2 separate regions of the Homo sapiens genome follow, and region 2 is linked to region 1. The links come from fine-mapping of genetic effects on gene expression. A gene starts in region 1. The other region holds a variant in brackets. All regions are shown on one strand. Distances are from middle to middle. Region 1 holds the start of STRC (stereocilin). Region 2 has its middle 8.9 kb from the start of PDIA3.

Region 1 (2,914 bases):
AGCTAACATTATTAAGCGCTATGTGCCAGCACGGTTTTAAGTCGTTTGCATACACAGTATCAACTCATTTAACCGGGTGCAACAACTCTGTGGTAACTAATATTATCATTCTCATTTTATAAATGGGGAAACTGAGGTATAGAAAGACTATGTAACCTGCTCAAGGTCATATGGCTAGGAAGAGGTGGAGCTGGGACACCAACCCAGACAGTCACACCCCAAAACCACTAAACTACACTCCTCCCATCAGTTTTCCTCTCTAGAGGCTGAGGTCTTCAGCTCTTCACCTCCAGATTTTCCAGGCCCAATCCCTCAGAACTGGTCTCCTGTTACTTACCATAAGAGCAGCTGTTGAAGGTTACCTAGGAGGGAAAGAGTAAGGAAGAAAACTACCCCAATTTCACTTTCCTTGCCCTGCCACATCCCAGTCCCAGCCCTGGCCACACTCACCTCCCTGGCACTGCCCATTGGTATCAGGCTCTGGCTGCCCCAAAATGGAGAAGACCTCATCCTGCAGGGAGTGAGTGACACGGAGCAGCCCCTCCTGAAAGGCAGCATAGAGGGGGGCCCCCACTGTGCGTAGCAGACCGCCCCAAAGAGCCTCCTTGGAGCCTAGCTCCCCTGTTGGGGTAAGCAAACCCAACAGACCCTGCAAAAAGTGAGGAGCTGCCTCCCTCCCATCGAGGCCTGTGGCATTGGTGGGGTCCACACTGGGCTGCACCTGCACCAGAGCTTGCCAGCGTGTGCCCTCTAACAACAGCAGCAGAGAAGGCAACCAGTCAGCAGCCAGGACACAGTCAGACGGCCCATCACGGGTGCATGGGGGCCGAGTTGGGGTAGGGGGGCCCCCAGGAACTAAGGCTCCCAGCAGCACCTCCACAAGTCCACCCAGCACCCCTGCCTGGTGCACCAGGAAATCTCGGGGAGTCTGCTCCTGTCCCAGCAGTGCCAGCATATCCCCTAGCAGCCCTAGCATTGGCTCCCAGTCGGGGCTACCTCTCAGTGTCACTAGAAAATCATGGAGCCGCAGAGCAGGCGGCTGGAGAGGTGGGGGCTCTCCTACTGGTCCTTCCCCCATTCTCCCAGGCTCAAAGGAAGAAGAAATGTTGGCCAGGAATGTAAAGAACCGTGAGCGGCTCAGGGAGCCCTGGGGAGCCTGGTCCAGAGTGGAGAGCAATGACTTCAGGAAGGAGAGACCAGGGTCCAGGGAATGAGGCCCAGTAGGGGCCAGAGTCACTGTAAGGAGAGAAACCAGAGGTCACTGAAGGAGAGGAACACAGAGCCCAAACTCAACCCTGCCCCTGAGCACAGTTCCCTACCTGGATCTAAAGATGAGGTGAGGGGATGGTGAGCTGAACCCCTTTCACTGGCCTACAGTAAGTCTTGGCCTGCTTTTCTTAACCCTCATTTTTCCCTTTTGCACAAGTCTCTGCCTCTCTCCTTTGTCCTTCTATCTAACAGGTTCACCTCCATATTCTTAAAGTCTTTTTCCAGCCACCCTCCTCCTCATCCCCAGTTCTGCTCACTGTTCTTCTTACCTGCAAAGGACAGCAGCAGCAGCAGCAGCAGCAGCAGCAGCAGGGGCCAGAGGCTGAGAGCCATGTTTCCAAGTGAACACTGGTACCGGAGGTGAGTTCTGGTTATTCTCACCTGTGTGGGATAGCCAGGTGAGGGCAGGGCACTGCAGGCAACCTGAGGCTCCACTGACACTGTAGTGTGGTCTTTCAGGAAACAATATGTGTAACCTGACAGCAGGTTTGTTACCTGAGCCGCTGAATATCTGATCCTTTAGCTCTGGAGAAGGGTATGCTTCTGTGAGAGGGACTAATGATAGGGGATCCCAGGGGCCCCTCAGAGAAACCCAAGGAGATTGCTTGAGTTAGGAGCCAGTGATGCAGAAAGGAACAGGCAGACATGGAGATGGAGAACTGGAGACCAGGGGTGTAATCTGGGGTTCTGCAGAAGCAAAGAAAACAAAGAGGATATGAAGGAGCTAAGAAGCAAGTAGGATTTGAGGAAATTGAAGAAGAAATGACGCCCAGGAGAAACAAACTGCACAGCAAGGTATAAACAGACGAGAGGTCCAGTCCAAGGATGGAGAATTCAGGAAGAGGAGAGCTGCTTTCAACTACTACCCAGAACCACAGAGTGTCAAGAGCTGAGCAGTACCCCAGAGATCACATACACCAAACTTTTTCACTTATGGATAAGGAAACAGACCCAGAGAAATGTGATTTGCTCATTAGGCCATTCAAATGTTTGGGTCTTTCCTTCCCCCTCCGGGATCCCCTATCATTTGGTTCTTTCTCTGTGGCCTAGGTGAAAGCCCTATCAAAAACTCTGAGCTGAGAAGACAGAAACCAGATTAAATCACTATGCACAGGGACTGATCTCCCTACACACAGAACTGCTCATGGAACAGAGAAAGAGATTTCATTCAAAATAATCTGGTCTGGTCAGGGTTAGAAGTCTTTTTTCGTCATTTTTGTTTTTTGTTTTATTGGTTTTTTGGTTTTGGTTTTTTTGAGATGGAATCTCTCTCTGTTGCCCAGGCTGGAGTTCAGTGGGGCTATCTGACCACTGCAACCCCTGCCTCCTGGGTTCAAGCGATTTTCCTGCCTCAGCCTCCCAAGTAGCTGGGATTACAGGCACGTGCCACCACACCCAGCTAATTTTTGTATTTTTAGTAGAGATGGGGTTTCACCATGTTGGCCAGGCAGGTCTTGAACTCCTGACCTCAAGTGATCTGCCCACCTCAGCCTCCCAAAGTGCTGGGGTTACAGGTGTGAGCCACCGCGGCATTTTTTTTTTTTTTTTTGAGATGGAGTCTCACTCTGTTACCCAGGCTGGAGTGCAGTGGCACTATCTTGGCTCACTGCAATTTCTGCCTCCTTCATTCAAGCGATTATCCTGT
Region 2 (2,914 bases), 120 kb after region 1:
TGTTTCATATTCTATGTTAAGCCCTCACATTTATCTACCTTGCCCCCTGCTTTAGCTTGCAACAGTCAAATCACCTTGAGGGCCCTGACCAGGACCAAAATAATAACTCGAATTTGACGGAATTGTGCAAGGAGTTTGAGAGACCTCAGCACCCGGCAGATCCTCAGAAGCTGAAGCCACACCGATTGGCCTGTTACCCCTACCAATACCACAACCTCGGGAAGCAGGGACTGTGGAAAACACACAGGTTATAAGTAAAATACACCCCAAGGCACCCAGGCAGAATTGCAGCTTCTTCATCTTATCCTCTTCATTGTTCCCTGGGCGTTATCCTTTGAATAGCATTCTCTGAGAAGTGCTTACTATTCAGCCTTTCTATATTAAGTTGCTTAAACACTATACTTCAACTTGTTCAGATATAAAAAGGGGGATAAAATTCATGGTTATTTAATTAGGTTGTTGTGGAGCATAAATGAGATAATGTAAGGAAAACACTTAAAATAGTGCTTGGCACTTAGTAAGTGCTCAGTAACCGGCAGATGCTCTTGTTGGCATTGATGTTGTAGTTAGTCTACTTTGCTCCTAATACCAACAACTCCTGCAATGATTGATGTTTAGTTTTAGGAAAAAAAAATCAAAAGAAAGAAGTTAAGTAAATTTTTGTTTCTTCCTATTATCATGTTAACTTGTTCTTTCGATTCACCTAGGCACATTCTTCATCCCACTAAACGAACCCTCAGGATCTCTATCCTTACCAACATGGTAACAACAAAGTCAAAGACATTCCAGGCACTCTTCCAGAAAACAGAAAAGTTGGATAGCCACTTAAGAAGGATCTCCAGGATGAAAATAAGCAAGATAAACCAAGCTGCCCCCTCCAAGGTCAGCTTCAATGGCCATAGTTTGGTATTTGTGGATTCCAGCAATTCTGTGAGGATAGAGCAAAGGAGGAATAAAAGTTAAGGAAGCTGGAAACCGAATGATGGAGAATGAACACACTTATAAACCACAGTTTTGCCCACTACTGTTCCATTTTTCTTCACACTGTGTTAAGAGTTAAGAGTTTCTCTTCTTAACACTGTTGCTTCAACCTGTGAAATACAGGGAAGGACAGAATTGACCATAAAACACAGCCACAACCAATCTGTTCATATAGTTATGTCTGCCCAGCTACAAGTCACTTGCGATCCACTCTGGGGCTCACACAGCTACTAAGAGACTACTCTCTTTAATTACCCCTACCTCCAA[C/T]CCCCCACCCCCATCTACTGTACTGTTATCTCAGTCCCAAAGTTCACAAGAAAGCAATGGGTCTTGAGAACAGAATGAAAATACAGGGCCATGATATCTGAACTACTTTATAACGAATGTAGAAACAAGCCACAATCATTAGGGTATATCGAATTATAACAATAAATCACTTGGTTCTGTTAGCTTTCTTTTAAAACTTTTCCTTTCTTCCCTGCCTAAAATTGGTTTTGTTCTGCAAAGCAAATTGAATGCATACTTCCTCTCTAGAACCTTATTATTTACCAATTGCTATTCCTTAATTCATTGCCTTTCTCTTTCAACCTTCTTCATCTCTTTTATACAATTAATGGATGTATGCCATGCTCTAGAAAAAAAAACACTGAAATTAAAATGGCTTAAGAGCTAAATAGAAATCAACATTGTGGTGCTCTGGCTTTAAATTCATCCTGATGCTGAACTGGATCCAGACAAAAAGAACAGAACCATACTTCGATCATCCCTAGAATTTTACAGAGGTTGGCCCCTTCTAAAAACCAATGGGGTTACACTATACTTATTCCTATGCTTGTTTTGAGACAGAGTCTCACTCTGTCACCCAGGCTGGAGGAGTGCAGTGGCATAATCACAGTTCGCGGAAGCCTGGATCTTCCGGGCTCAAGAGCCTCTGGGTAACTGGGACCACAGGCACATGTCACCATGCCCAGCTAATTTTTTCTTTAAATTACTTGTAGAGATGGGGTCTCCCTATGCTGCCCAGGTTGGCCTCAAACTCCTGGGCTCAAGCGATCCTCCGGCCTTGGTCTCCCAAAGTGCTGGGGTTATAGGCATGAGCCACTGCACCCAGCACTCCTATGCTTATTTAGGCTCTGTACTTCTTCCGTAAGTTTTTCTTTCATGCACATTTCTCTAAGATGGACAATATTTCACATTTTAACATCCATGAAATTAGGATGCTTTTTTTTTTTTTTTTTTTTTTTGAGATGGAATCTCGCTCTGTTTCCAGGCTGGAGTGCAGTGGTGCAATCTCAGCTTACTGCAACCTCTGCCTCTGCGCCACCATGCCCAGCTAATTTTATTATTTTTGGTAGAGACGGGGTTTCACCATGTTGGCCAGGATGGTCTCTATCTCTAGACCTCGTGATCTGCCCACCTCGGCCTCCCAAAGTGAGGATGCATTTTACAACCAGCGATGTGTCCCAGTTTAATTGAGCATGATTTTTATTTCTTATTGGTAAACAGTGAATTTCACCATTGATGACAGCTTAAATTCAATAAAATACAAAATTTTTTCACTTAACAATAAATTCTAGCTCTCAGGAGCATGGGATTATATAATTAGAAAGAGCTGAGGACCACATTTGTGGCTGGAAAATAGAATGCTATAATTTTTATTCAGTTTTTGCCCTTGCAAAACAGGAACCCAAACAGAGCAATGAAGTAAAATAAGGCTCTTGTAAAGCAGAATATAGTTTTGAGTAGTTTAAAATAGTTTAAGTAGGGAAGTCCAAATTATAGAAGCAGTAGCACTTTTACTCTCTGGAAAAATGAATAATTTTATAGAAGCTAAACAAACCCAAGGAAGTTCAGAGGAACGAATAGCAGAAATTGCCTCAGCAGCACAGAATGTGCAGAAGTGACTGCCTCCACTCTACATCAAGTAATGTGT

What was found. PIP is the estimated chance that this variant, and not a neighbour inherited with it, causes the effect.
Region 2: its variant is the best candidate, but not a certain one, in a credible set for the expression of STRC in whole blood (TOPMed, PIP 0.58).

The regions. Positions count from the first base shown.
Region 1 is chr15:43,617,121-43,620,034 of GRCh38, forward strand. STRC (stereocilin) reads right to left here and starts at 1,680. Exons shown (of 29, transcript NM_153700.2): 1 at 1,539-1,680; 2 at 451-1,236; 3 at 338-362. The coding sequence starts at 1,602.
Region 2 is chr15:43,736,081-43,738,994 of GRCh38, forward strand. It overlaps the pseudogene CATSPER2P1. Among named protein-coding and RNA genes, the nearest start is that of PDIA3, 8.9 kb to the right of the region's middle. The variant C/T (reference allele first, on the strand shown) is at 1,249.